Regions from separate parts of the Homo sapiens genome. Here region 2 is linked to region 1. A link means that fine-mapping ties the variant in region 1 to the expression of a gene that starts in the linked region. Tissue or cell type: fibroblasts. Region 1 holds a variant in brackets; the other region holds the start of a gene. All regions are shown on one strand. Distances are from middle to middle. Region 1 overlaps ARHGAP42 (Rho GTPase activating protein 42). Region 2 holds the start of ARHGAP42 (Rho GTPase activating protein 42).

What was found. PIP is the estimated chance that this variant, and not a neighbour inherited with it, causes the effect.
Region 2: it holds the start of ARHGAP42, and the variant in region 1 is fine-mapped to the expression of ARHGAP42 in fibroblasts (GTEx, PIP above 0.99).

The regions. Positions count from the first base shown.
Region 1 is chr11:100,808,740-100,813,137 of GRCh38, reverse strand. The region is part of intron 3 of ARHGAP42 (Rho GTPase activating protein 42); the gene reads right to left. Among named protein-coding and RNA genes, the nearest start is that of ARHGAP42-AS1, 120 kb to the right of the region's middle. The variant C/T (reference allele first, on the strand shown) is at 2,658.
Region 2 is chr11:100,684,950-100,689,347 of GRCh38, reverse strand. It overlaps ARHGAP42 (Rho GTPase activating protein 42), which reads right to left and starts at 2,060. Exons shown (of 24, transcript NM_152432.4): 1 at 1,516-2,060. The coding sequence starts at 1,669. It overlaps ARHGAP42-AS1 (ARHGAP42 antisense RNA 1), which reads left to right and starts at 1,393. Exons shown (of 2, transcript NR_133571.1): 1 at 1,393-1,715; 2 at 3,645-4,398. RefSeq lists enhancers at 1,296-1,665, 1,986-2,035, 1,749-2,459 and silencers at 1,686-1,855, 2,156-2,345, 2,396-2,690.

The DNA of each region.
Region 1 (4,398 bases):
CTTTCTCTTGCAATCTACATTTGATCAATGAGCAAATCCTCTTAGTATCACCTGCAAAATAAACCTAGCATCTGAACACTTCTACCACTTCCACTACTTTCATCCTGGTGCAAATTATCATTGTCTTTTAAGTAATGAAATAACGAAAACAGCCTCCTAAGGGGAGCTCAGCACACAGTCTTGTCCTCTACAGTCTGCATAACAATTAGGGTAGTCCTTTAAATTCCTAAATCAGTTCATGTCACACTTCTGCTGAAAGACCCTTCTACAGAGCAAAAGTCTAATTCCTTACAAGGCCTAAAGAGTCCTACATATTCTTCATAATCCCCCCGCCCAATCAACCACACTTTATCTCTTCCCACTTTCCCATTTGTTCCTGTGCTTTAGCCATATTTGCCTATGCTCCTCCTCAAACAGTCCGAGCACTTTCCAGCCTCAGGACCTTTGTACTTGCTGCTGTAAAGCTGTCTGGGCAACCTGAAAAGCATTTTCCCAAGAGAGTTGTAAGACTGACTTCTTTCTTTGTCAGGTCTCTGCTTAAATGACATTTACTCACTGAGGCCTTCCTTGATTTCCTGACATTAAAAACTCACCTACAGCCCCCTCTGCTACCTATCCTAGTTTATCTCCCTTTTTCCAGAGTATATATCACCATCTGATAATACATTTTGACTTTCTTCTTTGTTATGTCTGTTTCTGCCAACTGGAAGGCAGAAGCTCTTTTTGACCAGAGTTGTATTCTCAGCTCTGGAGCAATATCCAGCCCAGAGAAAGAGATTAATAAATATTTGTTGAAAATAAATTATTGCTATCCTTTCCAACTACTTCTGGGTATAAAATCCCATAAATTTCGTCTGTTTTGTAAATAAAAATGAAACTATGCTATGGTCCACCATCCGCTTTGCTATAAAGTTTTCCAAATCCTACAGTTTACAGCTTGTGTCTTTAAGCAAAAGATATAAGCAGAACCTGGCTGAACCTATTATTAATGTGTTCACTATATGAAGGCTCATTCATTCATAAGAAACTGAAGAGAGGGACAGGCACGGTGGCTCATATCTGTAATCCTAGCACTTTGGGAGGCCTAGGTGGGAGGATTATTTGAGCCCAGGAGTTTAACACCAGCCTGGGCAACATGGGGAGAGACCCCATCTCTATGAAAAGCAATAAAAATATAACATTAAAAAATTGTTTTAAAAAAGAAATTGAAAAGAAATCAGTTTTTGGCAGCAGTTTTTAAGTGTAAGCTCCATAAATGAGGTAGTGAACTCAGGGCTAATCATTGACACTGTTCAGCAAAGTATACAGTCACAGAAGACAATCAAATCAAGACATCCGGGCTGGGCTCAGTGGCTCATGCCTATAATCCCAGCACTTTGGGAGGCCGAGGCAGGCGGATCACTTGAGGTCAGGAGTTTGAAACTAGCCTGGCTAACATGATGAAACCCCATCTCTATTAAAAATATGGAACTTAACCAGGCGTGGTGGTGCACTCCTATAATCCTAGCTACTCAGGAGGCTAAGGCAGAAGAATCACTTGAGCCCGGGGGAGTTGAAGTGAGCCGAGATCACACCACTGCACTCCAGTCTGGGTAACAGAGCAAGACTCCATCTCCAAAGAAAAAAAAAAAAAAGAAAGTCAAGACATTCGAGGCAGAAGCAACATAGATCACCTACTCCATGAATTCCCAAACTCTAGTCATTCACATTCTACTTCCGTGATTTTGGCCATGGCCATGTCCTACATTTTTCCTTATAAATGGATTTACTTCTTTTACTAAGCATCCTACAAAGCAACAATTTTCATTAAATCCAGAGTTGTTCTGTATCCAATACACATTGAAATAAATATGGAACTACTAACATTTAAAATGTTTATTCTGGCCAGGCATGGTAGCTCGCGCCTATCATCCTAGCACTTTGGGAGGCTGAGGTGGGCGGATCACCTGAGGTCAGGACTTTGAGACCAGCCTGGCCAACATGGTCAAACCCCATCTCTACTTAAAATACAAAAATTAGCTGGGCGTGGTGGCGCATGCCTGTAATGCCAGCTACTGAAGAGGCTGAGGCAGGAGAATCACTTGAACCCAGGAGGCGGAAGTTGCGGTGAGCCAAGGTTGCACCACTGCACTCCAGCCGGGGTAACACAGTGAGACTCTGTCCCTCCCCACCAAAATAAATAAAATAAATAAATAAATAAAATGTTCATTTTATTGCTGGTGGTTTTCATTTTACACTTTGGGAAATGCTGAACACTCCTCATTTATAAAAAAAGAAAACAAAGTCTCAAGGAGCTTAAAACTTTACTAGATGTCAATAATTAATTAGGACCTAGACTTTCCCAGTTTGTGTTCTGGTTTCCTGCTGATCCTGAAAACACATGTTATTTTATTTGCATCACTTACATAGTATTCTGTTACCTGTGGTAATAGAAATAATTCTGTAGGTAAAATGTAAAGTGAATAGAATTAAAAGTCTCAGATGGGAGGGGATATTTTATTTTCCCTCAATAGAAATAAAGCAACTACTACGTAGCACAGTTTTTTTTCCACCAAGGCAGTTAGATATGGTTATGCAAATGAAGAGTACATCATTTTTCATTTTTCAAATAGCAGTGTATCTGCTGTTGAAAATATGTGAAAGATACAAAGGTTTGG[C/T]AGAAGTTTGGAATGTAAAAAAGGTAAGGTTTTCATACGGTGGCCACATTTTCCAAATGAAAAAAGGAAATACACTAGCTTCAGGACCAGCCGGTGGTTAACCACTACACTAGTAAAAACAAGTTAACCAAATTGCTATCAGTTGAATTATTACAGTAAATTATCTTGTCTAGTATAGTCAGGGGAAAAAAGAATGTTGGTTAAAACCATTCTTTTGAACTGACTCATTGATTGGTTTTCTGTTTATTTAGTTCCCCTTTACTATCTTTATATTTTTTTTTAATTTTACACATGTAAGTCCTGCACATCCTTTGTTTAGTTATCCTTGAGTCTCTTATTTTTTTGCCACTTTTTAAAGGTTCTGTTCAGAAATATAATTAATTTACATCTATTAACCTAGCTAACCTCTCTTATTTATCTCTAATAATTTATAGATTATTTGCAATTTTCTATGTGGAAAATCATATCATAATATGACAATTTTGTTTCTTTCATTTTAAGTCTTAGATTTTTATGCCTCTGGCTTCTCTTTTTTTTTTGGAGACAGAGTCTTGCTCTGTCACCCAGGCTCGAGTGCAGTGGCACAATTTTGGCTCACTGCAACTTCCGCCTCCTGGGCTCAAGTGATCTTCCCACCTCAGCCTCCCAAGTAGCTGTGATACCATGCCCAGCTAATTTTTGTATTTTTTGCAGAAACAGGGTTTCACTATGTTGCTCAGGCTGGTCTCAAACTTCTGGGCTCATGCGATCCACCCACCTTGGCCTCCCAAAATGCTGGGATTACAGGAGTAACACAGCACACCCAGCCTGCCTCTGGTTTCATATTACTGAACAGACTAGAGGCCCTCCAAAACAATTTTGAATTTAAACAGTAATAGTGTACATCTTTGTGTGACTCCTAATTTTTAAGTAAATGTTTCTAATGTTTGAGTGAATTAACATGTTTCTAAGTCTTGTAAAATTTCATACACAACTATCATAGTATTCTGTTCAAATGACAATGTTAACCGGAAATTTCTCAAGGTCATTGCCATATTACAATAGACAAGAGTTGGAGTGATTGCCTAACTCATAATAATTCCTTTGTTTCTGAAAATAGCTCTATATTCAAAGGAAAGTCTATGCAACATATTCTGTCCCTTTAACCTTGGGTAATTGGTCAAGCGTCTTTAAGTGACCTTAGCTGGGCCAATCAGAGCCTCTCCTACCTTTCTTTTTTTCTTTTTCTTTCTTCTTCATCTTGTCTTAAAATGAAAAACTAGACAATCCTATCTAGAAACAATTTCTGTGAGTTTTAGTACAATGCTTATGACTCACCATGTGGAAGAAGCCAGCTAACAGAATGAGGCCGATAAGCAAATGAGAGGCAAAGATAAAAAACCTCTTAGAGGCCTTAGAGTTTGTGATTCTGGCTGTTTCTTAATCCCACAAGCAATGTGGGCCCTCTCACAGATAAATGAGATGCCCCAATGTCTTTCCAACCAATTTCCTGTTTGACTTGCAAATGAGTATCCTGGGTGACACACAGATAAATCACAGGATGAAGTAACATAGCATCTTGATAAGAACCCCTAAGAGTTAGGCTTTTCAAATTATGAATCCTGATTCCAGGAAAAAGGGAACATTTATGAATAATTTGTTATTTTTAATTACTATTATAACAAGTAAAATGTAATGAACTATTTACTATAATTTTATGAGGTATTACATTGGGAGAAATTGTCAGTAAAGAATACACCCG
Region 2 (4,398 bases), 120 kb after region 1:
CATCATGCTCTCTTAGATGCAAAGAGGTTAGTCCCGCGAGACTTTAACCAGGATTTGCAAGCCAGAGGAAGGACAGTTCACATTAGTGTTTATGTAGGGTGGCAAGAATTGCAGACAAACTATATTTTTCACAAATCACAGTAAATACCATTATTAGTAGTAGCCTCAAATTCAGAAATTAAGTGAATATGGGCATAAAATATATTATCTTTACCTTGGTTAAGTAACACAAGTGGTTAAGTAAATGTTTTAACATTTGGGATGATTAAAAGATATTTTGGAGCACATTAATTTCAAGACATCTTGCTAAGCTCTCTCCTTACTGTTAATACATGTTTCAAAATATAGATCCGATACTAGTATTGTCTCAGTTTTAGGCGCACACATCCCTATCATGTTGTTATACAAAGATGATGCCCCCATATATGTCCTGGGGGTAACTAGATCACCCAAAGGTCTCTCTACCTTTTGAAAGTACCTCACTCACCCAGCTTTAAGTGACCAGAGATTCCACGGCTTCATTTCAGTAGCTAAAACATCCAGAAGCCTCTATTAAGATGCAAATACTTTTCACAGGCTCCTTTGAAGATGGAAAATAAATAAATACATAAATAAATAAAAATAAATTTTTTAAAAGATGCAAATACCTCCTGGGAAAGGTAACAAGCCATATCATGTAATTGTGCTCAATTCTCTGTAAGAGAAACTCTTCAGTTTCAGATACTCTTAGGTCTTAGGAATTGAAAGCTAAGATCCAGAGGATAAAAGGAGGAAGGAAAATTTGATCAAGAGGTGTATGGGAAAGGAGGTGGAAGAAGCCCTATATTATAGACTATAACAGTCTTTATATTCTACAGATCATCAAAAGTTCTGATTGGCCTTTAACCCCTTAACTTTCATCCCAATGACACACCCAACACCCACACAATGCAAACCAAAACTAAGACGCACAGAAAACTTGCAGAGTTAAAATGCACTGGTGCCTTGCTGTCTTCCATTATCTTACAAAATGGCAAAACTGCAAATGTATGCTTTTTAAAAAGCCAACTCAATGACTGTGTCCAATGAAGAGCCACTGACGTATGAGAGACATTAATAATTTTCTTTCAATATCACTAAACTAGCCTAATTTTATCTTTAAGACAAACTCTTGATTCCCCCCTTAAGGGCTTTTTTAGTTCAAACTATTAATAGACACAATAAATTAAAAAAAAAAAATTAAAGTCCCCAACATCTTCCTAGGAGCATTACACAACGAGATGACTTTGAACGACTTTCCTCAGGATATATTCCAGTGCCCTGTAGAGAACTTTCCCCATCCCTGTAGACATGTGAGTAAGTAAAGAACACCTCAAGAACAAACTTTGTTGGCCACCAGCAGGGGAGCTCTTCAGCTTTTGTCCCCAAATCCATTCAAACAAAAGAAGCTCCGACTCCTCCAACCCACCCTTCGGACCCGCACCCCGCGGGGACTCTCCAGATGCGGGTGTCCACTCCCCCGCCAGCCCTACTTACTCCTCAACGCCCCAATGAGCAGAGAGCCGTCCTTAATGAGCTCCTTGATGAACTTGTTGGTTCGCTCCAGCTCAATCTCGTGACACTGCAAGCGCTCCCTGAAATCTGGGCTGTCCAAGTAGGAATCGCTGAACTCCAGAGTGGGCAGCCCCATGGCACAGGCGCTGCCAGCGGCGGCCGCGGACACGTCCGGGCCGGAGGTCAGGGCGGGGGCAGCCGGCGGCCGCGGCGGGCGCTGGGGTCGCGCGATCGCGGGGAAGGCGCCGGGACGCGAGGGGACTGATTGCGCGGAGGAAACGGGCCCCGAGCGCCGCGCCGCCTGCGCCGGGCTCAGTCTTCCTCCCCCGAGGCTAGGCGAGCGCAGGCGCGGGCGGCGGGCCGAGGCGCGAGTCCCCTCAGGTTGTTGTCATCTGGACGCATCGTCGTTCGGAACGCGGGGGCGGCGAGGCTCCGGGCCGCGGCCGGAGCAGGAAAGTTTCTCTCACGGCGCGCAGACACTTCCGGCAGTTCCACTCCCCAACTCTCTTGACAGTCGTCGGCGTTGTGAGCCAGAAGCAGCGCACAGCCGCAACTCCGGCCGGGCTGGGGAAACCCTCCCCCTCGGCGGACGCAGGCTCAGAGCGCTTGCAAATCGCACCCGGGCTCCCAGACCCTCCTCCCCGCCGCCGCGCTCCCACCCAGCGCCACCCCGCCCCTTCGCCCCTTTGCCCTCCTGCCCCACCCGTCCGCCCGCACTGGGCTCCAGGGCTCCCCGCGCTGCAGCCCCGCGCTTGCGCTCCGGCCTTGGCTGGGGTGTTAGCCCTGTCCCCTCTTGGGCCCCTGGTTTCGGCTAGCCCTTGGTGACACTTCGGGGTCCCTCGCTCCACAAAAGGATCTGACTCCCAATATACCTCCCCTAACAGTGTCCCCTCCACCCACTCCCTACAATTCTCTGGGAGAAAAACCAACGTTAAGTTTCCCTAAAGTCTGAGTATTTTGAAGCGTAGATGGAAGATACTACTGTCTAGCGTTCGTTTAGATTTTACTTCACACTTCCCCACCGAATGCATTTGAATTCCACGTTGAAAAATTGTCCCGTCGCTCTCCCACCCCTCAGCTTCAATGATCCAGCCTGGAGGTGTTTCTTCCCCCTGCCCCCACTCCATAGCTGGGAAGGTGGGACGATTTTTCAAGTCATCCTCACTCTGCTTACGTGCTCCTACTTCTAGTAGAATACCTATTTGCATCACAATAGTAGTATCTCCTATTGGCACCTGGATGGAATTGTCCTAGGAGCGGGAAAATTTTCAAATTGTTGAAGTGGACTGGAGTTTGAAATAAATAGTTAACTCCTACCCACAGGCTTTATCCTTCCTCCGGTGGAGGTTCACCTAATAAATTTCTGTTCTCTTAAAACCTTGACAGCAAAAGAAACGACTGCTTTACATCTCGTCCTGACATCATCTATAGGATTTCTGAGAACTCGGATATTGTTCTTAAGGATCTGCTTTTAATTTCTGCATTTTCATTGCTTTGTCCATATGAACCATCTGTTTAAAAACTATTCTACAGATCATGGGAAAAATTCCACTAAAGTGCTTTACATTTTTCCCAATTAAGTTTCAGAGCCAGTCAAGATTCTTGGTTTCAATTTTTTAAATGTACAGGAACATTAAAAATAACATGTAAACCTAAAACAGATAAGATAATGTAAACAGTATGGGCCAGGCGCAGTGACTTAACGCCTGTAATACCAGCATTCTGGGAGGCTGATGCAGGAGAATCACTTGAGGTCAGGAGTTGGAGACCATACTGGCCAACACGGTGAAACCCAGTTTCTACTAAAAAATACAAAAATTAGCTGGGCCTGGTGGCGCACGCCTGTAGTCCCAGCTACTTGGGAGGCTGAGGCAGGAGAGTCACTGGAATCCGGGAGGCGGCGATTGCCATGAGCCGAGATTACGAGATTACTCCACCGCACTCCAGCCTGAGTGACAGAACGACTCCATCTCAAAACACCTTCCATCCATATTCACATCTTTGGCCCCATATTGGCAAAATGACCAGTCACTATTAGAGCCATTTTAACTCCAAGTGTTAAATTTGTTTTTGTTAACTAAATACTCTTCAATTTTTTTTTTCTTTTGCAGGTTTGGGGAAGGGAGAGGCAGTAATTCTGTTTGTCAGTTAATGAAATGACATGACATAAACACCAGTGGACTGTGTCTCACCAGAGGTGATTTTGTATTTACTCATTACTCTGCCTGAAAGACAAAAAATCACCCAGGCCAAACAGTTTCCTTTCAACTTTTGCCATGTTGCTGTTCCTATCAACTGAATCCAGTGCCAAACTGCTGAGATACGAAACGATAAAATATAACATTCTCTTCTTGTTTTTCATTAAATCATCGTACTGTGATTAAGTCTTTAAAAATGCATCATTGGTGTTTCATAAGTTGCATTTAATATGTTGGATGTCAATGTTTAGTTTTCTTTAAAAGTGTTACATGCCAGGGCAGATGTATTGTACATTCTATGATACAGGTTATCATTTGCCCATTCATGTATGTAATGATATGTTTTATGTCTACTGTCTACATTACTAAGGTCTGGGTGGGGAAGTGATTTCTATAAAAAGACAGAAGCATTATCCGTGACCTCAAGCAGTTCTCAGAAAAAGGAAATGTGGAAAATAAGTACCCATAAAGCATAAGGCAGAATATGCTGTGTTCCACAGCCTCACACAGATGCTGTACTAATAATACATTGATGCTATTGTTTATCAATATGTTTCCACTCAGGCCCATCATTGCATTTACATGGAATTAGGATTTTTTCTCCTACCCTTCACTCATGATTCCCTAAAGTTTATCATGTTATAATGGGCTTATTTCTTGTAGGTGT